Homo sapiens: one gene and its partners. The protein of the gene in region 7 purifies or fractionates together with the protein of the main gene of each other region. This does not show direct contact. Each region holds a gene or a part of one and is shown on either strand. Other genes may lie near its edges.

The links.
Region 1: the proteins of SHPRH (region 7) and BCL11A purify together in Homo sapiens (affinity purification with mass spectrometry, with the first as the bait; one large-scale study listed by BioGRID). This does not show direct contact.
Region 2: the proteins of SHPRH (region 7) and NFAT5 purify together in Homo sapiens (affinity purification with western blotting; one study listed by BioGRID). This does not show direct contact.
Region 3: the proteins of SHPRH (region 7) and HAT1 purify together in Homo sapiens (affinity purification with mass spectrometry, with the first as the bait; one large-scale study listed by BioGRID). This does not show direct contact.
Region 4: the proteins of SHPRH (region 7) and SMARCA1 purify together in Homo sapiens (affinity purification with mass spectrometry, with the first as the bait; one large-scale study listed by BioGRID). This does not show direct contact.
Region 5: the proteins of SHPRH (region 7) and BCL11B purify together in Homo sapiens (affinity purification with mass spectrometry, with the first as the bait; one large-scale study listed by BioGRID). This does not show direct contact.
Region 6: the proteins of SHPRH (region 7) and PWWP2A purify together in Homo sapiens (affinity purification with mass spectrometry, with the first as the bait; one large-scale study listed by BioGRID). This does not show direct contact.

The regions. Positions count from the first base shown.
Region 1 is NC_000002.12:60,543,655-60,547,154, forward strand, and holds part of BCL11A (BCL11 transcription factor A), read right to left. Parts: intron 2,647-3,500; coding exon 2,317-2,646; intron 1-2,316. UniProt on the Homo sapiens protein: Transcription factor. Associated with the BAF SWI/SNF chromatin remodeling complex. Binds to the 5'-TGACCA-3' sequence motif in regulatory regions of target genes, including a distal promoter of the HBG1 hemoglobin subunit gamma-1 gene.
Region 2 is NC_000016.10:69,701,966-69,705,154, reverse strand, and holds the end of NFAT5 (nuclear factor of activated T-cells 5), read right to left. Parts: 3' UTR 501-3,189; downstream 1-500. UniProt on the Homo sapiens protein: Transcription factor involved, among others, in the transcriptional regulation of osmoprotective and inflammatory genes. Binds the DNA consensus sequence 5'-[ACT][AG]TGGAAA[CAT]A[TA][ATC][CA][ATG][GT][GAC][CG][CT]-3'.
Region 3 is NC_000002.12:171,925,461-171,928,960, reverse strand, and holds part of HAT1 (histone acetyltransferase type B catalytic subunit), read right to left. Parts: intron 3,425-3,500; coding exon 3,320-3,424; intron 1-3,319. UniProt on the Homo sapiens protein: Histone acetyltransferase that plays a role in different biological processes including cell cycle progression, glucose metabolism, histone production or DNA damage repair. Coordinates histone production and acetylation via H4 promoter binding.
Region 4 is NC_000023.11:129,516,991-129,520,490, reverse strand, and holds part of SMARCA1 (SWI/SNF-related matrix-associated actin-dependent regulator of chromatin subfamily A member 1), read left to right. Parts: intron 1-1,843; exon of another isoform or gene 1,844-1,915; intron 1,916-2,043; coding exon 2,044-2,130; intron 2,131-3,500.
Region 5 is NC_000014.9:99,230,698-99,234,197, forward strand, and holds part of BCL11B (B-cell lymphoma/leukemia 11B), read right to left. Parts: intron 861-3,500; coding exon 648-860; intron 1-647. UniProt on the Homo sapiens protein: Key regulator of both differentiation and survival of T-lymphocytes during thymocyte development in mammals.
Region 6 is NC_000005.10:160,116,651-160,120,718, forward strand, and holds the start of PWWP2A (PWWP domain-containing protein 2A), read right to left. Parts: upstream 2,801-4,068; 5' UTR 2,739-2,800; coding exon 2,155-2,738; intron 1,276-2,154; exon of another isoform or gene 39-1,275; intron 1-38. UniProt on the Homo sapiens protein: Chromatin-binding protein that acts as an adapter between distinct nucleosome components (H3K36me3 or H2A.Z) and chromatin-modifying complexes, contributing to the regulation of the levels of histone acetylation at actively transcribed genes.
Region 7 is NC_000006.12:145,954,359-145,957,858, forward strand, and holds part of SHPRH (E3 ubiquitin-protein ligase SHPRH), read right to left. Parts: intron 997-3,500; 5' UTR 965-996; coding exon 332-964; intron 1-331. UniProt on the Homo sapiens protein: E3 ubiquitin-protein ligase involved in DNA repair.

The DNA of each region.
Region 1 (3,500 bases), on a different chromosome or scaffold from region 7:
CTCACTTTGAGATGTGACCACACTATTTATGTTCAGCCAGTTCCAGGGTGGGAACAGGTGATTAAACACAATGAAAGAAATCAAGACTTTGTAATTATTCATGCACGAAAGGTTTACCTCACCTGGGTCACAGCACTTGTTGTGCGCCCATTGAATATCTTAGACATCTTAGAGAGCTTTTCGTCTCAGTTAAATGATTGATTATTAGCGCTATAAAATATATTTTAAATTTGCTTTTGGTTTTGGCTTCTCTAGGCTCTGCTATTATACTTGTTCTTTAAAAAAATAATAACAGAACCTTTAGACAACCAGGGAGTTCAAGCAAATATCTCTTATTTCCCTACATAGATTCACAACTATAGCAGTAAAAGTCTTAACTATATGTAAGGCCTTCCCCCCAGCATTTAGATTCCTCCTCTAAATACAGAGGCACAGAATTTTTGAGCTGGTTAATCTAAGACTGAATAACCTATTTGGGACCTCAGTAAGAAGTGTGGTTTTAATTCTTGCTTGACAGACACTGTGTTTTGTCTTTTAAACGAGCAGCTCGATATGTAAATACGATGTTACATCACGCAAGTGTTACTCCATATTTGGTGATTTAGCAAGGCTTTGGATCTCCGAAGACGACAAATCCCCTTCCGCCTGCTCTTGCTTCATTAATCATGCCTTACACTTCTGTTCATTTTCCTTCCAGTCACAAGACAACACATGGAAATGGTCATTCCCACATCCTGCTGGGGGGTAGGGGAGATAAAATCTTCACCTACATGTCACATAAGGTAAATGTGGTGGATTCAAGAAATACACTCCACAAATGCAGCTTCCCTAGCAGCAGATTTCCCATTTCACTAAAGGGAAAGTATCTGAGTGCTATCACAGAAAGCACTAAAAAAAGAAAGAAAATGCCATGTTTGGTTTTAATGATCAAATTCTAGAGGGGGAGAGGAGAAATAATATGACATTTAATCCCCTCTAGACCACTGACCTATTATGGTTCAACTTTGTGGTCAAACTAGGTCGGAGAGACAAGTTCCAGTGAATCAATTCATGATATGCACTACCTTTCCTAAAACTGAACAAACCTCTTGCCTTTCGGGAGCTGGGTGGTAGGTAGATGGAAGAAAGCGATCCACCAACAGGCATGGCATGTCTGTCATCACAGAATCTGCATTGACTTTTGTCTAACATGCTCAAGCAAAAAATGTTTTGAGGGTCACTATATAGTGTTACTGTTTATCACTTAGAGAAGGGAATTTAAGTCCCACTGCTAGCCTTTAATTCCTTTTCCCTTGAGCTGCCGAGAAACCCACACACCTAGCTGCCTCCCTGCTAAAATTAACCAAAGGAGGGAGGGCTGTTGAATACGTGTGTGTATTTTTCCAAGAAAATTTTTACATTGTGTTATAGCAGAAACAGTGGAGTCTGGACTGGACATTTGTAAGGGTGACATGTGGCTGTGTAAACCACAAACAAAATCAAGATACATCTGTCAAAACCACATCAGAGACAAGAGAGAGCACAGAGAAGCATTTATCATTTAGCTGAGGAGGCAGGCTGCAGGGAGCAGCCGTTCCTGTCAAACCAACCTTTTGAAATTTCCAACATGCCCTTAAACTTTTCGAGTAAGCATGTCTGTGCGCTTCAGCAACTGCCCTCTCTACTCTGGCCTGGCCAGTCGAAAATGGCATCTTAAAGTCAAGGTCATGGTGTCATCCCACCACGGGGCTGTGTTTAATTACAGCCCCATCCGGGCTGACAGCCAATATGGATCCAAGGCTAGCCCTGAAGCTCAGTTAACTCTTTCCACCACCTCCAACTACCCTGCCAGCCCACTCTACTTCAGGGAAGCCTTGAGAACGAGCTGAACCCCTAAGGAGGCCTGGCCAGATGTTCTGAGTCAAACAAGTCATTGGCTGAACTGCAAATGCCTATATGGCCACTTTGCCTCTGACACGTCACCAAGGCTGGAAATGGACAATGGAAGCTGGACTAGGTGTAGTAAAGCTCAATACTTCAAAATGAGAAGGTGGGGATGGGGAAGAAAAGAAATCCAAAATCGACAGATCCAGAGAGAAGGTGTCTGATGTGTGTACCTATCCTGCCTACATCTGATTCAGTGAGGTGGAAAATATTTATTTTTCTGTGTTCTGGACGTAAGCAACAGAAATGATTATTTTAACATTACAGGGCTGTCATGGACAGTCACATAGAGTAATAGAGAAAGCACTTCACAACTCCTTACTGCTTGGCTACAGCACCTCTGAAAATGAAAAGAAAACATGCAAACAGCTTTTCTCCTTGCTTCTCATTTACCTGCTATGTGTTCCTGTTTGGGGCAAATTCCTCTAGATGACGTTGATAAACAATCGTCATCCTCTGGCGTGACCTGGATGCCAACCTCCACGGGATTGGATGCTTTTTTCATCTCGATTGGTGAAGGGGAAGGTGGCTTATCCACAGCTTTTTCTAAGCAGAGGCTGCCATTGCATTGTTTCCGTTTGTGCTCGATAAAAATAAGAATGTCCCCCAATGGGAAGTTCATCTGGCACTGCCCACAGGTGAGGAGGTCATGATCCCCTTCTGGAGCTCCCAACGGGCCGTGGTCTGGTTCATCATCTGTAAGAATGGCTTCAAGAGGCTCGGCTGTGGTTGGAGAAACAAAAGCACAATTATTAGAGTGCCAGAGAGGACAGAAAGGGGAGAAGCACATCTCAACCCCATGCCATCCCACCACATCATGTAAAGTGTTTCTAGGCTTCTCTATATAATACCCAGAAAATGTGAGCATACAAAAAGTACAAGGATGTGAAGGTTATCAACCAGAGAGCAAATTTGTCAATGAGGCAAATCATCACATATGTAAAGAAAACAGTCTTCCTTGCATAACTCCAGAGAACACACACACACACATATACCCATGCACACACCCACAGCAACAAATGTGTCTGGTTTGTAAGTTTAGAAAGAATGCTACTTAAATAGTTAACACAGGGAACATAAAGAAAGCTTAAATAATAACTACAAGAAAAACTGGTTAAAAAAAAAAGTGGATAGAAACCAAATTTGTTTCTTTTTTCCTATACACCAAGTTGTCCATTGTGCCAAAGAATGAAAGGAGAGGTGAATAAACACACACACCCTTTGTGTGTGAATGTATATACTCCTAAGTAAACAGACATGGCTTCATAAATTAGAAAGCTACTATGTCACATGAAAAATGTGCCACATTTACACTGCTGTAATAAGAAAACGACTGCATGCACCTATGAAACGGATCTAAATAATAATCATGTCGCAGCATAATTCACACTGCCAAAAACCTTTCTGCTCTCACTCTCAGCAGTGCCACAAAATCAAAGAAATACCAAATGCACGGGCAGTATTTCTCAGACACATTAGCTAAATGGGATACTTTTGAGTACTTAAGAAAATAAGCCAATTAGTCATTTTTTTTTTATTCTGAGAAATGGAATGCCTATAATATTCTAAACATGTTT
Region 2 (3,189 bases), on a different chromosome or scaffold from region 7:
CTGGGATTACAGGCGTGAGCCGCTGAGCCCAGCCTATATTTTTTTCTATTACGCATCAAAACACTTATACATGTAAGTTTAAAAATAGTGTTTATCCACGTACCACGGGTAGTTGTGTACCACACTCTGATATGCGCTAATTTAGAGATGTAGAAATAACACCAAAAGAATAAACAGAGATTGTCTCTGGGCATGGGACTAAGGGATGGGGAGACTTGGTTTTCATCAAAAGCACCTCCGTGTATATGTATTGCTTTACTAAACATGAAACATTTAAATTATACGTAAAACAAAAATTCTGTCACACTGAGTCACTTATACTCTACCTGGCAAAATGGTAGGCACAAAATAACTACTCAGAAATATGTCTATATTTCACACCTCCTCCCTAATGATTTTATAATTTCAGCCATATACTCATGCTGCTCAAAACTGTCGTTCATGCACACAATTCCATTCACAAAGTTTGAGGAAAAAAAAGACAGCTATCCACTGCAAAATGAAAACTTTCAGTGTTTTATTTTTGACTGCAGCTGTTTACAGAAATATAGTTGCGAGTATACAAATGTTCCAATAGAAGCAAAATATCTTTTTAATATTTAACAAGTTATCACAGATAGCTAAAAACATAGATGCAAATGAAATTCCCCCAGAGAACAAACTGAAAATATCTGGTATCAGTGCTCTGAAATCCCAACTATGAAAGCCATATACACAAAAATGTAACCCTTATATCATTGCAGGACAATGGAAGAAGGCAGTTCAGTGGTTGATCAGTGTGCTCAAGCAAATAAAATTAAATAAAAATTAAAAATGGCAGAATGGTAGCTAAACCACTTGAGAACAGGTTAATGAAATTATTGGTACTATACTTAAAACATTAAGTAAAAGAAGTGAATGAAACTCATTTAAAGTTGTCAAAAAATTAGCAACTACTTGGAGCTTATCAATTAAAAGGAAACAAGGTAAGCAGACACATTCATTAGATCAAAAGAAATTAGATCAAGTTCACTGGAATCAGTCTGTAACTACTCAAGTCACAATGACTTCAGTGCAGGAGTTTTTTACTGGACACAGAAGTCTGATTCCAAGCCCACTCTTCAACAGCTGAGATTTTGTGTGCGTGTATGTATGTGTGTGTGTGTAGACGTTGTCCTGAGGTTCATCAGCTAAAATAATATAATAAGCAATCCCTACAAAATATTTCAAACCAGGCAAATGACTTCTGGAAGAGAGAGAAAGGAAGGGGAGAGGGAGGGAGAATATGAGTAAGCAAGCAGGGTCATATGGTTAAACATGGAATTTTTTAAAGGAGTTATTACAAGTGGGAGTCAAATAGAACTGTGGTAGAATGCTTTGGGTACAGGAATATGTTATGCAATAAAGTGAGGAAGAGAAAAAGGGAATAAGAAGGGAGGAATGTAACTAGAGCAGCTCCCAACAGTTTGCCTATGTATTTGCCAGCACCAAAATTTGTAGAGTAAGCCACTTACATTTCCACTGCTAGTATTAAGGAAAGACAGCAGTGGTGATTTTTATAAAGTGAGTATACATTTATTTTTATTCTGATATGTGAATTTTTCTTTCACGAGTTAATTAACTGGTAATTTGTAAACAGTGGGAAGAAGATTAGAACAATTATGGAGGTACTGAATTACACAAGGAGATTAAAATGAAATGAATCAATCTACCTATCTTGTGGTTAGTTTATATTTACCATGATGCATACACTTGAGAAACGAGAAATGCCCAAATTGTATAATGCATTATCTTGTTTATTATTTATTTTAGTAAATAATTCTTGTCTGAAACATAAGCTCCAAGGATAGCTATATCTATACTGATAGCTTAGTTCTTATACAAAGCAAGCTACTTTTGAAGAAGTTTTACCTATTAAAAAAATAAGTTAAGGTGCCATGTTGACCTGGCCAGCCATCTTGTTTACTATCTCAGATACAAATATAAATACAAGGAATGATGATTTTGTTCTGAGGGTTGGTCTAGCCAGGGCAAAACTGTGGTCTGCTGGTAAAGTACTAGGCAATGAAAAGAAAGCTTGTATTACACTGCCCATAATGTACCCATTTTATGGATAAACAGGAGACTTTAGCACCGGTCAATTATATTAGCTACTTAAATGTCATAACAATTAAAATAAACATAGAACATTGCACCTATATATTTAAATCAGTCATTTAATGTAAACCTTTTAGTAAGTGGTAGGAAAATGCCAAACTAAATTAACTGAATTATCAAGAATTAGACTAATTGTGTATGTACATAAAATACACTGTATCTCTATAGGCAGTACTGAGAATTAACTTTTGCCAATAAAAGATTATAGATAACCAGGTTAAGCTGAATTTACATGAAGAACAATGTATAACTATATCAGTCTGAGTGGAAGAAAAACTCTATATCTCAACAGAGTCTTAGCCCAGTGGTTCCTAAACTTTAAAGTGTGCATCAGAATCACCTGGAGGGCTTGTGAAAACAGATTGCGGGGGCCCTATTCCAGAGTTTCTGACTCAGTATGTCTGGGATGGGGCCAAAGAATTTACATTTCTAACTAGTTCCCAGGTGATACTGATACTAGCTGGTGGGCTGAGAACCATACTCTGAGAACCACTGGTTGCACATACTACATATGTAGAAAAAGATATATTGTAATGTTCTTATATACATGGCACAAAATATATAGACAACTGGTTTTAATGAATTCCCAAACATGTAGGTTAGCAAGCTGAATGTTTCTAAAATGTGACGTTTCTAAAATGATGTGCTAAAGCATAATTATTTCCCCTTATAAGTAAATTACATTTCAAAGTCTTAAGTCCTATATAGTCATTTTAGAAAAATCCATATAACATTTATACCAAGTTGGCTATCCAAAAGAAAAGGGACATAACATTCTAAATAGTTAAGATGAATTCATTAGGAAGGAATCATCACTATACAGCATTCTTGGCTTCTTTGGAATGATTAAAGTGCATAATATCAATAGGGTATTAAGAATATTGCATAAAAGTTTGCAGTCCTCAGTGCCACTAACAGTCACAGAAATACTAGCACGGGGAAAGCAGCCCTATCCCAAAGGTAGAACTATCCTGACCTGTTGCTGATGATCCTTTCTTTAAGCACCACCGCTGTGGTAAGGAGCTGGAATAGAGGCAAAATTAACAAAAACCA
Region 3 (3,500 bases), on a different chromosome or scaffold from region 7:
ACAGCTAGGAATTTATCCAAAATAAAATCATATGTCCACAAAAAAACTCATACAATAACAGCCAAAAACTAGAAACAACTCAAATATCTATTAACTGGCGAATAATGATGTATCCAACAACAGAACAGTATTCAGCAATAAAAAGGAATGAACTGCCGGGCACGGTGGCTCACGCCTGTAATCCCAGCACTTTGGGAGGCCAAGGCAGGCGATCATGAAGCCAGGAGTTCGAGACCAGCCTGGCCAACATAGTGAAACTCCGTCTCTCCTAAAAATACAAAAGAATTAGCCAGGCGTGGTGGCAGGCGCCTGTAATCCCAGCTACTCCAGAGGCTGAGGCAGGAGAATCGCTTGAACCCAGAAGGTGGAGATCGCATTGAGCCGCAATCATGCCACTGCACTCCAGCCCAAGCAACAGCGTGAGACTCTGTCTCAAACAACAACAACAAAAAAAATGGGGAATGAACTACTGGTACAGACAACATATGATGTACCTCATAAAAATTATGCTTAATGAAACAAGCCAGTCACAAAGCCAGTATATATGGTATAATTCCATTTATATAAAGTGCTAGAACACAGAAAGCTAATTTTGGTCAAAGAAATGAGACTGTAGTCACCTTGCAGGTGGCAGGGACTGAACAGTAAGTAATAAAGTTCTATCTACTAAGCCTGCTCTCATTAATGCTAGAGCAATACTAACAGCAATGTGTTCACCTAGCACCTAGATCTTGGCTTTAGCACCCGAATCTTGGCTTTAAAATATCATTTCCTGTGGCTGGGGGTGGTGGCTCATGCCTGTAATCCCAGCACTTTGGGAGGCCAAGGTGGGCAGATCACCTGAGGTCAGGAGTTCGAGACCAGTCTGGCCAACATGATGAAACCGTCTCTACTAAAAATACAAAAATCAGCTGGGTGTGGTGACGGGTGCCTGTAATCCCAGCTACTTGGGAGGCTGAGGCACCAGAATCACTTAAACCCAGGAGGCAGAGGTTTCAGTGAGCCAAGACCGCGTCATTGCACTCCAGCCTGGGTGACAAGAGTGAGACTCCATCTCAAAATAAAAAACCATTTCCTGGCTGGGTGCAGTAGCTCATGCCTGTAATTCCAGCACTTTGGGAGACCGAGGCAGGTGGATCACTTGGTCAGTTTGAGACAGACTGACCAACATGGCGAAACCCTATCTCTACTAAAAACACAAAAAAATTACCCAGGGCTGGTGGCACATGCCTGTAATCCCAGCTACTACGGAGGCTGAGGCACAAGAATTACTTGAATCTGGGAGGCAGAGGTTGCAGTGAACCAAGATCGCACCACTGCACTCTACCTGGGCGACTGAGTGAGACTCTGTCTCTAAAATAAAATAAAATAACATTTCCTACTAAAAGAAACCAGGGATCCTTGGAGAAATGGCTGATTCCAAGGCTGGGGCAGAGACAACAGATGACAGGATGTTCCAAGGTAATCAAACTATCAAAGAATGAAGTAATTGAAAAATGAGGGGACATGTAAAAAAAATACGCAGATCTCAGCAACCACATCCAGTCACTCCACTCAGCCCTTACCAAGTATTTTCTGCATGTCAAGGAGTTTAAACACTTTACTGATATTTAACTCCATATTTAATCTTTGTAACCACTGTGAAGTACTATTAACAATGAGGAAACTCAGGCATGGAAAGTAATGCAACCAGGAATCATGAGCATATATTATTTTTCACTTGTTCTAAGTGTAAAATTTTAGCAAATTCAGAGCTGTGCCACAATCTAACTTTCAAACATTTCCATAATTCCCAAAAGAAATGTCAGGCCCATTTGTAGTTACTCTGCGCTCCACTGTGCAACCACTACTTTCTGTCTCTATGGATGTGTCTTTTCTGAACATTTCATACAAATGGAATTACACAATATATGGTGTTTTTGTTTAGTTTCTTTCACTTAGCACAATCTTTTTAAGGTTTACTGCAATAGGTATCAGAATTTCATTCCTTCTTATTGTCAAATAGTATTCCGTGGTATAGCTATACTATACTTTATTCATTTACCAGCTGATATATATCTGGGTTTCTTACATTTTTTTGGCTACTGTGAATAACGCAGCTATGAACATTCATGTACAAGTTTTTGCGTGAACATACATTTTCATTTCTCTTGAGTAGACAGATACCTGGCAGTATAACTCCTGGGTCATATAATTCATTTATGTTTAACTTCTTAAGAAACTGTCAAACCAGGAGGGGCGCTGTGGCTCACAGTTATAATCCCAACACTTTGGGAGGCCAAGCCAGGGGACTGCTTGAAGACAAGAGTTCAAGATGAGCCTGGACACATAGACACGTAGGGTCCATCTCTATGAAAAAATTTTTATAAGCCAGGCGTGGTGGCTCATGCCTGTAATCCCAGCACTTTGGGAGGCCAAGGTGGGCAGATCACCAGAGGTTGGGAGTTCAAGACCAGCCTGACCAACATGGAGAAACCGTCTCTACTAAAAATACAAAAAATTAGCCGGGCGTGGTGGCGCATGCCTGTAATCCCAGCTACACGGGAGGCTGAGGCAGGAGAATCACTAGAACCCAGGAGGTGGAGGTTGCAGTGAGCCAGGATCACGCCATTGCACTCCAGCCTGGGCAACAAGAGTGAAACTCCGTCTCAAAAAAAAAATTTTTTATAAAAATTAGCCAGGCTTGGGTGGTGCACACCTGTGGTCTCCTAGCTACCTGGCAGGCTGAGGCAGAAGGACTGCCTGAGCCCAGGGGTTGGAGGCAGCAGTGAGCTATGACCATGCCGTGGCACTACAGCCTGGGTGATAGAGTGAGACCTTCCTTGTCTCTTTAAAAAAGAAAGAAAGAAAAAAAAGGGGTGAGGGGAGGAAATGAAAGAAGAGAAGGAAGGAAAGAAAATAAAAAAGACAGAAAAGAAAATTGCCAAACTGTTTTCCAAAATAGTTATATCACTTTACATTCCCACCAGCAATATACAAGTGTTTTTTTCCACATCCTCACCAATATTTGCTATTGTTTATTATTCTTACAGGCAAAAAAGTAAAAAATATTTTTAAGAGGCTAAAACTATATATACTTATTACTTTTTGCCCCACCGTCTTTCCTTTTTATATAAAATTCTGTCACCTTTCAAACATCTACACCTTCCATGACATAAATCAAAACTGAATAAAATCTGAATATGTTCAATAAATGCAGAAAACCATACATTTGCATAAATAACTGCTCTTACATAAAATTTTACTTCAAATTTAAAATGAAAGATTATATATACACACACAGTATGTACATAACATCACTTAGAAATGGCATACATACCTAATTTTAGTTCAATTGCTGTGTTGGTGTTACATTTGTACTCTGCCAGTTTCTTCTCCACTGCACTCTTATATTCTACCAAAAATTTCTCCATAGCACCAAATCCTAAGAGAAAAGGTTTTTAAAAGGTTTAGTTTGGAAGTGACTTAAATTGTCAAACCTGCAATAGGGTTATTATAAG
Region 4 (3,500 bases), on a different chromosome or scaffold from region 7:
TGAATGAGAGCGCTTTCATGATGAATACAGTAGATGAGAATTAGTGAATTGACCTGTGACATTTACCTACTCAAAGGTGTTTTTGCTTACTTTCTGGTTGTTGAATTTAGTTGGTTTAAGTGACGGTTGGATTACCCAACACTGTAGACATGAAAACGTCAAGAAAAAGGTCATGGTCTTTAAAACAAGCCATTTTGTTGACCTTGTGCTGCATTCTCATGGCACCTAGACTCAGATAACAAAATCCAAAGGAATTCATTAGAGTCTCTTAGTCACTTTTCATCTTTTCTTGTATGAAAAAAATGTAGTTTTGAGAATACACACACACACACACACACACACACACACACACGAGAGAAGGTTTAGAAGGTAGGTATTTTAAAATTTGTTGTGGAAGATAGTGCCAATTAAGTAATTACCCACAGCTTTTAATAGCCCTGCTCAAGATTAGGATTTTAATTAGCATATAATTAGATTTTGATGGTAGTCTACCGCAAGGTAAGCAAAAAAGTAATGGGTAAAATGTTTTTCTAGGATTAAAGCTTTAATTTTCTGTAAGTGTACTTCCCACATTATTATATATATTTGTGCGTATGAGGCAAAGTAATTTTCATTGTTTTGATACTGGAAAACTGCACTTCATATAACCTTTCAAGGAATGAATGATAAACGTATGGATTTGATACCCAATTTTTCTTGTTGCTTTGAAAATAAATATGATTTATATTATATATGGCAGTCTGAAAGTGTGAGTTTGAGGGGCTCTTTAGCAGTTTTCTATTCTCATCCATCCAGGATTACATTCAAAACATTCCATATAGATGTGTACGTATCAGATGCTGTAAATCAAGATGGTTATTATTTGGGTTAGTGTAACTGAATGATATCTGATCAGTGCTACAAAGTAAGAGTCTGGACAAGGTCAAATTCCATAATCTCAGTTTGGATTTCCTCAAAATAGAAATTTTAGTAAATATTGGAAGACATAATGGGGGCCATATTTTTCTTATGTTTAAGGTCACATTCTGTTGATTTTTGACCTAAGTTTTCATAAATAGGTTGACAAAAGCCATGATAGTTTTCACGAACAAATTTGTGTTTTCTCTTATGCAAAGTATGTGTTAAAACTGAAATGCTCTCATCTTTGGTTCTGGTGGGTAGATTTGTGTTTTTATTATTTTATTTCTTGGTTTCTTATAGGGAAGGAGGCTTATTCTATATATGTATTTATATTTGCCAGTACAGGCTTGTCTTTACAAAGGATAGGGTGCATGAGATAACCCCCTTCCCCAGATAATCTCTATATTAAGTTATTGATTGATGTTAGTTTTCGCTAAATTACAATTTAAAAATATCAAACATTAATAGTTAAGTAGCCTTGACAAATTGCTTCTACAAGATGTTTATGCAATATAAATAGTTTAAAGTAGTTTTCTTCCCAGTTAGAGAAAATTAACATAAGCCAAAAGTTTAAAACTGTACTATTATATTAAGTATATGTGATCACATTGCATTACATAAAAAATTAAATATTCTTATAATACTATGAAAACAATTTTAAAAATATCGTTTTAGGAACAGAAACCACAGTTTTTTTTTCTGAAAGTGTGGCGTATTTCCATGACATAAAGGAGTGTTTCTTAGAATTAATATTTACTTTCTTTGAATTATTTGGTTTGTGGTTGATATTAGCCTTTTCTAGATTTTAAAATCTCTTATTTAATGTTTACACATTTTCTTACACTATAAATTAAAGAATGGATGAGAAAGCTCAGTGTCTTGCCTTTTGGGTTTTATTCCAATTAATATTTCTTTGGCATTCACAATTTTTCAGATTTTTTTTATTGGACCTCAGGTGTACAGAACTGGATTAATCATAAGCCTTGTTTTGTGACATGCTCTCATCATTGGTCCATACATGTCCCACATTGATTTATATATTTAGTTATGTAATTACTTTCCGCCTTCTTCTAATGAGAGCATTGACCAGTTTAAGAACCTTGCTTTGCAATTTGGTGACATTTATTTTCTTTGAAATTCTAGAAAAACGTTTCTTCATTTCAACTCAAACTTGCTGCTAAAGCGCCTAAATCTGAAAAGGAAATGGACCCAGAATATGAAGAGAAAATGGTAAATGTAGTCTTGGATAGGATAGTGAATGCTGTAATTAATTTTTATAGTTGAGATGTTAAAGATGAAAAAATACATGTATATATATAATGCATAGAGAATCATTGATTTTAGAATTGGAAAATAATTTAATATACAATCTATCACAATATTTTCTGTTGAATAAATTAACCTCCTCATTTTCAGATGAGGAAATAAAGGATCAGGGAAGCTATATGTCATAGTTAGGACTAGAAGTCACATCTCATTTTGGTTCGGTGCTCTCTGTCCCATAATAAAGTGCTTTAAGCTAGAAATATTTATTTATGAGGTGAAAATATCAGTGGTAATACCACTGTGGCTTTGTGACCTGAGAGAAATCCAGTCACAAAGCCAGATTGACGTATTTTTGTTTCTTTCTCCTTCTTTGGACATATGAATAAATGCTACACATTAATGAAATGTGTAATATGTCAATACACTTTAAAGGGAAGAATATTTGTCCAATGCATGAAGATATCACATATTTAAGCAGCATAATCTTAGTTATACTTACATATTGCTTGCTATAATACATTTAATTATTTAATTTTTAGTTACTAAAATACATATTTTAGCTTTAATTTTAACTAAACTCTTATAACCTTGGATCTTTCAAGAATTTAACAGGTGGTTGAAATGGATTTTTTTTTCCTCTGAGGGGTTGTTTTTGCAGTAATATTATAAAAATAAGTATAGATGAAATATATTTTTTGGTTGTTGATAGCTATTTTATAAGACTTAATGTTTAAGGCCACATCTAATGTAGGTAGGCAATGTTTTAACAACTCTAAAAATAACATTCCAGTGAGGATAATATAAAATGGAAAGTTTTTGGCCTCCTTCCAGCTTGTAGTCTGAATTTATCTAACTCTTATGTTTATGTTAATGAACTCTTCTGTAAGTTTTCTGGGTTATTAATTATGCATCCTTCATTAGCAATCAAGTATTCTCTACTCTGTGGTTGGAAAGTGACTTTGAATAAATAAATAGTCTTTATTTTTTCCTTTATCTAGAATGATGTATATATCTTTTGATCTTTTAAGATTTTTTTAGTGAAACAAAGTTTTATTGCCTGTATATGGTACACGTTCCCTGACCTTTTACAATTTATTGAGAAATTAGAATACATATCAACTTTTAATAGTTAATAAACTATTTCACATATATGTGCATATGTTTATATATTTTTCCCAAATTCTGCTTACTTTGGGGAGAAAGTTTATACGCTACTAGCACAAAATACAGTTTTCTAGATCCCTGTGAGTGAAGAGAGGAGTGTTTATTACATTACTATACCATGACACTGAAAATATTTTGAGACAAGATGATACTGTATTTTAAGATTTAAG
Region 5 (3,500 bases), on a different chromosome or scaffold from region 7:
AGAGCAGGATGAGTCGGCACAAACAGCTGTGTCTGGGTCTGGCCCAGAGCCGGACGCACAGCAGGTACTCAGCCCCCGCCCCCACCCCTCACACACCTCACAGTGTTTCACTCCCTCTCGTGGCCACAGCTTTTTAAGAGGCTCCTTTTGAGCCACTTTTTTTCTTTTTCAAAGCTAATGGGCAACACATTCTCCCAAAGAGAAACTCAGCATTTTGGACGGCTCCAGCAATGTACACAGTCAACCAAGGAATCTTCCCCTAGCCTGGTCTTGGCGGGGCAGGGGATTGTCTGGGGTGGGGGAGGGGGTGGCAGTGGCAAGGGCCGAAGAAAACCTCAGATGTTAAGTGTTATCCAATTAAGCTGTCGCTAAACAACCCAAAGAAGCGGGATTGGGAGGCTGGGGAATGCATTCTGGGAGCAAGACTCTCAGAACGGGTGGGGGCACCGTGGGGGACTCCTGACCGAGGGGCACCGGGCCCTGGCTCATAGTTCAGCGAACATTCTTTACCACTTCCCCTGGCACCCCAAAAAGCCTTCTGGGTGGGAGCTGCCCTTCCTCCCTGGGTCCCCACCTTGCTCCAGCGCTGCCCATGGCACACCCCGCCATCCCGGGGGCCCGCCCCCCACCGCGGCGTCGTCTGTTACCTGACAACTGACACTGGCATCCAAAGGGAGCCTCCGTCTGACCCTCACCCTGAGTCCCGTCACCCGAGACCGGGCGCGCGCTGCAGCACGGCAGGGGGAGGCAGGGCGGGAGAGCGCCCAGGGCACGCAGAGGTGAAGTGATCACGGATGAGTGAGGGTGGGAGGAGGCAGCTATGGGGGCCACCGCTGGCAGCTGGGCAGGCCTGCACGGCCCTGGAGAAAAAACAATAGAAAAGACTGGTCAGTCGGGCCCTGGACTGTGTGAGGGGCACGGGGTGGGACGGGGCTCGGGGCGTGGGGCTCTGCTCAGGCCACCCTTCGGGGGTGGGAGGCCCCCGGGGTGCCAGGCCCTGCAGGGAAGGCAATCGGGACACAGGCGAGGGAATGGGCTCGGGGAGGTGGGCAGGGGGCACTGGGGAGGGCCCGGTTTCCACAGCTGCCAGGCTGGGCTGTCGGGGAGGCAGGACCCCGCCTCTGGGGGCCTGGTGCAGGGGGCTGGGTGAACGGGGGCTGTGAGGACCCACTCTCAGGAAGGACCCCCCACGTGGGGGCCTCTGGAGCAATCAAATAGGTTCCATTTGGGGATTTGTTTCCAAAACTTCGGGCTACCCCTCCCTGGAAGAGCTGGGAAGCTCACAGCCTCCCCTGTTTGCTGTATCAGGATGGGCTGTTCCTACAGGCCCGGGACACCTTGGGTCCGCCTCCAGCCTTGGGTCCGCCTCCAGGTGTCTGGGCTCTGTTAGCCTCCTGTCTGGCAGACCACCAGCTGGGGGCTCTCTCCAGCCCCAAGCACTGAGCGTGCTGCACCCAAAACGCAATGCCCTTCAGAAGGCTTTCACACCCCCCTACCACACCCCAAGAAAACCCTGGCGCTGCTCACCCCCTCCTAACGTCTCGGCCTGGCTTGGGAGGCCTCCCGCCATGTGACAGCAAGGACACAGGGCCAGGGCCGGCCCCGCCTCTGCCCAGCCCCACAGCTCGCTCAGCTCCACAGCAAGGCCTGCATTTGATTTAGCCGTTTATCTTAAATGGCTAAGAGACCACCAGGGCAAAACATTTGTGTGAAGCCCTTGCCAAAACCACAAGTGAAGAAGCCCAAATTCCCTGGGTAAATAATTGAGCAGGGAAGCATCAGAGAGACAAAAAGGAAACGTCAACAAGAGGATGGGCAGCTGGGCCCAGCCGGCTTTGCCAGGGAGGCCCAGCACAGGTCTGCACGGGTGGGAGTCTGCCCACTCCAGGGCCCCCACGTGGATTCCCCCATCGCAAGGAGAGCCACAGGACCCTGCAAGCCACCAGGAGCCAGGAGCCTGTCAGTCTTCATTGGACTGAACTTCCTAACACACTGACGGGAACTGGGGCTTAGAATACCCATTGCACAGACCAGGAAACTGATGGCGTGACTGCAGAAAACTGCAGACATCAGCAGCCCCATCCAAACCCCAGCTGTCTGGCCCCAGAACCAGGGCTCTTTCTCTGTAGCCCTGGTTTCTCTAAAACATGGGTTATCCAGGATCAAGGCATCAGGGCATTTAAGAAGACCCCCTGCTTAGGGATTGCAAGCTGTCAGTGTCCTGTCAAGAGGTCAAAGCTAACACCAACACTGCTCGGAACCCCCTGAACCAACAAAGACCTCATACTAGGTGAGGCCTCGGGCCCAGGGTATTTCTGAGCTGGGGATAGCCCTGGAAGGATGTGGCTGAGGAACCAGTAAACAGTTTCAGCCTCAGATGCTGAGGGGAAGGCCATGCTAGATTTAGTGCCATCCCTCAAGGAAGGTCAGGACCTGCCTCCTCCTGGAAGCCTGCCCTAGCCTGAACCTTCCAGCACTGGACACTGCATTTGATCCTGTCCACTGGTGGTCTCAAATCCCTATGTAGGCCTTCCCTGCAGACCACCGAGGGCTCTGGGTCATCCATCATCATGACAGCCACCTCGCTCAGAAAAGATCCACATTCCACTGGGGGAAAACTGAGGCTTAGGGAGATCTGAGACTGGAACCCAGTTGTGTCCCCGAAGCCCGCAATGCTCTGCTTCCCTCTAGGGCTGCAGCTGGGTAAGTGACCAGGGGTCCTGGGATCTCTAGAGCAACGGCCACATAGTGGGCGGAAGTCTGAGATCCCTGGGCTCAATCCAGCCATTGGAAGCTGCAAAGGCCAAACCCAGGCTCTGGTTCCTGGGTTCTGGGTGAGGCCACGACACAGCCAGCACCATTTATCACTACTGAGAAACCAGCAGAAGCAGCTCGAGGCCTGGTAAGGGTTGTCCCAGGTGCTAAGAAGCTGACTCTGTCTCCGTGGTGGGAGGAACCGTTGCAGAGCAGGTAGAAAACAGGCATCTGGCCACACCCTTCTCCTGGAAACGTCCAAGGTGGGGCTCAGACCAGGGTCTGTAAAGGCGATGTCACACACCACACGTTGTTCCCTGCATAGGGGTCAGGGGGTAGGCCGCCCTGGACAGGTTTCCCCAGAGTCTCATTAGCAATTGTGACCTTGCTGAAGTCCACCTGCTCCAGGGACCGGCTCAACTGAGGCAGGGGAGGGGGGCAGCCGGGAGAGGGGCTTCAAATCCCAAGCTCTACAGGGCCTCTCTGGGGCTCCCAGAGCACCTTCTACACTGGGAGAGGTTTCCACACGGGGCAGCTCAAACCCAGAGCCCTTCCCAAGGGTGGAACTCAAGAAATCTGAAGCTACTGCAAAAGCCCAAAGTGATGAAAGGAGCCACCTACGGCATGACTCCATGGATACGAAATGTTCATAAGAGGCAAATCCACGGACACAGAAAGTAGCAGTTGCCAGGGGCTGGGGGGAGCCAGTAGGGGTGTGAGGGGTGGCTAATGGGCACAGAGTTTCT
Region 6 (4,068 bases), on a different chromosome or scaffold from region 7:
ATGAGCACTTATCCATTCCATTTCCAAAAACAACTTACCTTCTGCACCTTCCTTTTGCAGATTTGAAATCCAGATTCTCACACAATCACTGGCCATCTCTTCTGTTTCATTCAACAGCATACACACCAGAGTGTCTCTTACTATTATATACATCAGTAGAGGCCGGGCGAGGTGGCTCATGCCTGTAATCTCAGCACTTTGGGAGGCCAAGGTGGGTGGATCACCTGAGGTCAGGAGTTTGAGACCAACCTGACCAACATGGTGAAACCCCATCTCTACTAAAAATACAAAATTAGCCAGGCGTGGTGGCACATGCCTGTAATCCCAGCTACTTGGGAGGCTGAGGTAGGAGAATCACTTGAACCAGGGAGGTGGAGGGTGCAGTGAGCAGAGATTGTACCACTGCAGCCTGGACAACAAGAGCGAAACTCTGTCTCAAAAATAAATAAATAAATAAATAAATAAAATACATCAATAGAAAGCACACTCACCTTATTCTGCTTTCTAATTATGAAAACAGGAGTGCAGGCCGGGCACAGTGGCTCACGCCTGTAATTTCAGCACTTTGGAAGGCCAAGGCAGTAGGATCGCTTGAGCCCAGGAGTCTGAGACCAGCCTAGGCAGCACAGCAAGACCCTGTCTCTATTAAATAAGTAAACAAACAAACATAAACAGAAGTGCAAATGCCCTAATCCAAAATTATTTTTAAAAAAGATACTTGAGGCCGGGCACGGCGGCTCATGCCTGTAATCCCAGCCCTTTGGGAGGCTGAGGCGGGTGGATAACCTGAGGTCAGGATTTCAAGACCAGCCTGGCCAACATGGTGAAATCCCGGCTCTAGTTAAAAAATACAAAAATTAGACCAGCATGGTGGCGCACGCCTGTAGTCCCAGCTACTTGGGAGGCTGAGGCGGGAGAATCGCTTGAACCCAGGAGGCGGAGGTTGCAGTGAGACGATATGGCGCCACTGCACTCCAGCCTGGGTGACAGAGTGAGACTCCGTCTCAAAAAAAAAAAAAAAGATATTTGAGATTAAATAATACAGAATAACTGCTCTCATCTTTCCCCTCAAACACCATACTTCAATATGAAATTTTAAATGGCTTTTTTCCCCAAATGGGAAAGAAGGATTCCTGGGTCTTGATGGGAGAGCAAGCAAGTTTAAGAGTAAAACATACTAATAAGCCATTGCAAACAGGTGAGATACGATCAGAGCGTGTGCTGTTGCAGGAAACAGAATGGAAAGCCGTGAATGGGAGTCTCTGCACTTCATATCTGCAAAAGAAGAGAATAAAAAGGTTAACTCCAGACTTAGAACAGGTTCTCTTCCCCTGTTGAAAGCAGAGCCCAAAAACATTTTAAATCAAAAAATGAAAATGTGGTTAAGCCAAATTTGTAGATGAACTCAACCTTCTTGTCCTTAATACATAAACTGAATCCCAGGTGTTAGAAGTTACTTGAACATTTTTATGCTACACCACCTTGACATTAAAGGATTTTTTAAAAATCTCCAATCTCTTCTTTAAACTTTTCTTAAACTATCATTAAAATTAGCAAAATATGCTTCTCTGTTGAATGGTTAACCTAACGGGAATGACTTCTAACCGTAAGAATTACAGTTAAAAGGTTCATTTTAACAAATGCTCTTCCCCCTGTAAGGAGTGACAGGTAACCTTTTGGGAACCCCAATGTACACACCCCTTTCTCCAATCCCGCTAAAGTTAAACGTTAGAGGACAGACAAGTGCCTCCTCGCAAGCAATGCCCCCCGCCCCCCCGTCCCCCCGTCCAACACTCCGTTCTCTGCAAAAATCCATCTGCATCTTGCATTAACCCACCCGCCCAGTGACGGTGACTCCAGGCCAAGTCGCAGAAGAAGACCAGGCGTGAGGGGTGAGACCTGTGAGCCCATCTGCACCTGCACCCTCCCACCTGGTGGCACACCTGCCCCGCAGGCGCCCACCTGGGGCCGGGACCGCCCTCTCCCGGTCTCGCGCGCCTGCCCCACTCGGAGCGCGCGCCACGCGCCGCGCAGGACCAGAGGGCGGGGCCCCGGGCAGCGGGGAAGCGAGGGCTCGGGGAGAGGGGGCCGCCCGGGCTCACTCCCTCCCTGGGGACCCAGCGGACCGGAGGGTGCTGGGGGCGGGCGCGGTACCTTTTGGACAGATCCATGAGGACCCCGGAGAAGAGCTTCTCCCCGAAGCGGAACGACACGACAAGCGCGTCCTCAATGATGTGGTCCAGCGTGACCCGCACCTCCGAGCCCGGGATCAGTTGCGACACCGTGGAGTCCCCGCCCGCCGGCGGCACGAGCGCCGGGGCTACGGGCTGAGGCAGCGGCGGCTCCTCGCGCTCCTCGGGAGCCGGGGGCTGCTCCGGCGGCGATGCAGGAGAAGGTGGAAGTTCCGGCCCTCCCTGAGGCGCGGCTGCCGCCGACTCCGCCACCCGAACGGACAGTTTCTCCTCAGCCTCCAGCTCCGGCCCCACCGCCTCTGGGCTGCGGGCGAGCTCCCCCGGCGGCGGCGGTGGCGGCGGGAGCGGCGGCTCGTCGGCCTGAGGAGCGGATTGCTGCCCGTCAGTCTCGCCATCCGGCACAGACGCTTCAGTGGCCGTGACCGGGAGGGGGTCAGTGCCGGCCTCACTGCCGGGGATGGGCTCCATCTCCGGCTCGGCCTCGCCGGCGCCCCCCTCCCCGGGGGACGCTGCAGTCGCTGCCGCCTCTGCAGCCACGGCCGCCATTTTCTTCCTAGCTTCTCCCTCCTCCAACTCCGGCTGCAGCGGCGGCGGCGACAGCGCTGCTTGGTTCCCTGGGCCTTCCCCTCCCTCCCGCGAACACTTTCGTCCCGCCCTTTCCCTGATGCTCGTTTCTGGCACCTCGCCATTGGTTGCATTCTACACCCCTCCCGCACTTTTGATATTCCATTGGCCAGGGATGGACGTCTATCATCTAGTCAGTCCATCCTTCCCACGCAGAGTAGGAACTTCTCATTGGCCAGATGTGTTGTCAAGTGTGGAATCTGAGTGGAGGAATAGGGGGCGGAATCAAAGGGGGCGGGGGAAGTCACAAAAGAGGAGCCATATACTCATCGCCTCTTGCTATTGGCTGGAAGAGGAAATAAAGTTTTATGGTTGGCCTACGCTCCTGCCCATTATCAGCCAGGTCTTTGGAGGTGGGAGAAAGGATGGAATCATGTGGCGTGCCACTTCTTTCAAAGGCGGCCGAGGGGAGGAGTAACAAGGGAATGCGGGAGGGGAACCGCTTCCCAAGAATCTCTGCGCAGAGATCCTTAGAATAAATGTTATTTCTAGGCGCGGACTTCTTGCGGCCGCGTGTGGGCACGACAGGCTTCTTTGGGAAAGACAACTAAAGTTTGAAATACAATCCTACAGACACTTTTTGAGTGCCTACTATGCTAGTCACTGCACTAGGTGCTGGGGAATGGAATGTTCAAGACGTTCTCCATAACCTCATAGCAGCGGGCTCCAGCGGCCATGAGGAGTACGAGGAGTATTTTCCTTGACTTCTAGGAGTATGATGAGTATTTTCCTTGACTTCTCTCCACTTCCTAGGAACAAAGCACCTATTTATTAATATTTCAGAAATAGGAAAATGCTCATGAAAGAAGAGAGACACCATCCTCACTGGATTAAACTGATGACTGTTCCAGGAAGGAGTCTTGAGACATTGCTGGACTGATATGTGAACACTGCTTGTTCTCTCCAAATCCACTTGCAAAGTGGACGCACCTGGTCCCTGCTAAAGCCTTTTTCTTTCCTGGCTTCTCCAATGCCACGAGAACAAAAGATCTCTCACTTCAGTGTCCTGACGCCCCTACTTCTCTTACTTCCACATCAAGTCTTTTCGTTTGTCATCTCTGGAAGAATCTACTGAACCTATTTCTCTCAAATGGCACCACAGAGTCAGCCTTTTTTCTGGGAGAATGCCTGCAGGAGAGAGGGTAGAAAAACTGCTAGCAATGAAAGTAAAAAAAATAAAGTCCTGAAGAATAATTACAGCTAGTGTCTTTTGAGTACCATGTACCAGGCACTAATACAAACACTATAGCAT
Region 7 (3,500 bases):
CAATCATACAATTCCAGAGACAAAATCGAAGCATTTGAAAAGGCAAAATAGCAAACAGATAAATGGTTAAATGACTGCTGCAGTAAGAGGAACTGATGATGAGGACCAAAACAAGTCACTGAAAGTAGAGATGGAAGATCTTGAAAAAGTGTAGCCTGAAAATGATTAGTTGTAACATACTTTGAATAGTTATTAAAAGCTTAAAGTGTACTTTGAAACTTAACAATGAAAGGCTTATTGCTGGCTTTTCAGACTTCTCTCACAAGTTAATTTAAAATTGGACTGCCAATGTAGAAGAGCCTCAAAAAAGACACCACAAAAAACTGAGTACCTTGATAATGTGATTTCCTTCTGGTTTCTGATAGAGTTTTATTCTTCTCTTCTTTTGTAGCCACCCCAAATCTTCTAACATTTCACCACTGAAGGATGACTCCACCAGAATACCCTTGTCACAAATACTCATCGGTTCTTTTTTTTGTTTCTCTACATCTTCACCTTTTGAATGAACATAAATCAGGAACTGATTGCTTGACTCTGAACTCATCAATGTAATACTCCTTTCGGAAAAATTTTCAATTAAACTCTGTGCAGGAAGAAGCTGAAGAGTTAATTCTCCTAGAAATGCTTTCCAGGAATTATCAAAATGATAGGGAGAAATCACAATATTTAACTTTACAGACAAAGGGGAAAAAATACCAACAGTCTCTTCTTTTTCAATTGGTTTTGAGAAGCTCACCACTTTTGAACACCTCTTCTTATCTCTGTGAGCCACTTCTTCCTTTAGACTATCACTTAGAATGATATAATGAGCAGAAGAGGTATCTGAACCTGGGCAGGGCTGCTCGTCATCATCACTTATGATGATAGGTTCATTCCTTCTGTCCTCATGCATATTCCAATGAAGCTGCTGCCTCTTTTCCTCATCTACCCTCACTGGAGGAGCACGTTTCCGTCGGCTGCTCATTTTCAAGTTTTCTTGGCTGGTAACTGTGAACTCTAGAGGACAAATGAAACAACAGGAGGTATAACAAGAGATGATTTAGTATTTAAGGGTTACCAGATGAGAAATTCAGCATAAATTCATAGCCCATAAACATAATATGAAATCTTCTGTGAGATATAAGGCAATGAGTAATTTTTTTACCAGGTCATTATGACTAAGGAATGAACATATTAACCATAATCTCATTTATCAAATAAATTCTAATGGTTTTGCTAGTCTTTAATAGTAAAGGCAATTTGTTGTATAAAATAAAATAAATTGTAGAAATACATTTAATAAGCAATATAATAGGAAGGTAAATCTCTCAATCCCAAGTAATTTAACTGCCCCTCAGAACAAAGCCCAACAATACTTAAAAGAGCGAAACAAAATCCAACACAAATGTCTGGCATCAAATCTAAAATTATCAGGCACGCAAAAAAAATGAAAATAAAACAGAAAAATAAGACCCATTACAAGAAAAAAATCAAAAAGCCCCAGAAAAGACACAGATGATATAATTAGCAGAAACAAACATTCAAACAGCTACTGTAAATATTCTCAATATGTTAAAGGTAGAGGAAAACATGAATATGACAAAGAAAAATGATAGATATACAAGTGACTCCTATAGAATTTATGCAGATGGAAATGCAACATCTAAAACGAAAAACACATTGTATGAGATTACCAGCAGATTAGAAATGGCAAAGAAAAAAAGAAGCAGAATAAGCTTAAACAATGGAAACAACAGTAACAACAGAAACTGTCAAAAATGAAGTAGAGATAAACAAAGACTGAAAAAACAATAAATAGAACATCAGAAACCTACTAGACAATGTTAAGGAGTCAAACATGCATAAAACTGGAATCTCAGCAGCAAAGAATGGAAAGGATACAAAAAACTTTTTGAAAAAATCATGCATGAAAATTTTCCAACTTCTATAAAAACCATCAACTCAGAAAACCAAGAAGCTCAATGAAACCCAATCAGGGCAAACATAAAGAACAATCACAATAAGGTATGCCATAATTAAATTACTGAAAAGTGAGGACTTCTCTCCAGATTGGCCCTATTTCTCTGGTTTAGACACTGCTCCCACCCCACAGCTCTAAACCCAGCAAAATATCTTTCAAAAATGAAGGTGAAAAAAAGATCAACAAAAGCCAAAAGGACTTATCACCTGTATACCTACAATCTAAGTAATGTAAGAAGCGCTTGGGTAGAAGAAATATGACATCAGATGGAAATCTGGATCCACACACAAGGAAATAAAAAGCAAAAACAAAAAATATGTGTATAAATATAGTAAACTTTTTTCTTGATTTTTAAATTTCTGTAAAAGATAACTTACTATACTTTCATTCTGAAAATTTTCAAGCATACATAAAAATTTAGAAAATAGTATAACAGTATAATCAGAGATCTATACAGTGTACTATGTTCATGGACTAGAAGACTCAAAATGTTCAGATGTCAATTTCTTAGTACTGACCTATAGAAAAGCAATCCCATTCAAAATTCCAACAGGTTTGTTCTGTAGAAACTGACAACCTGATGTTAAAATTTATACTAAAATGCCTACAATACAGGAAAGTCAATATAATTTTAGAAAAGAAAAATAAAGTTGAATGACTTACACTGATTCCAAGACATATGTCAAAAGAAATAAAAATGGTGCAGTAGTGGTGTAAAGACCAACATATAGATCAAGGGAAATGTCCTGTAGTGGACCCACACATGGATGGTCAATTGATTTTTGAAAGAAGTTCAGAGGCAGTCAATGGGAAAGGTATCCTTTTAGTAAATGGATACCAATATGCAATGAAATGAAGCTTTACCTCCTAAAATGTAAGAATTAACTAAAAATAGATAATAAACTATAAAAGCTAAAACTAAAACTTCTCAAAGAAAACAGAGGAGAAAACCTAAATGACATTGGATTAGCCCAAAAAAAAGGCACAAAAATTTTTAAGCAGGAAACAAAAACCATAGACTATGTAAGAATATGATAAACTAAGTTTCATCAAAATTAAATATTTTGGTTCTTCAAAAGATACTGTCATCAAAATATGACAGCAAGTCACAGATGGGAGAAAATATTAGCAAATCAAGTATCTGATGAAGGATATGTTTGCAGAATATATAAAGAACTCTCACAAATTAATAGTAAGACAAACATTTAAAAAAGTCAAAAATTTTGAATAGACATTTCACCAAAGATGACCTATAAGTGTAAAATAAGCATATGAAAATATTTTCACCAGCATCAGTCATTAAAGCAATACAAATTCAACCCACAAATCACAATGAGATGCCACTATTCATATACTAAAATAGTCAAAAATTTAAAACACTGAGAGTATGGCTCAAACAGAACTGAACTCTCCAACATTTGAACACAGCACAGTCACTTTGGAAAAGTATCAGTTTCTAATAAAATTGAATATAACTTACTATGCAGCCTAGTAATCCCTCTCTTAGGTATTTATCCAAGAGAAATCAAAACATAAATCC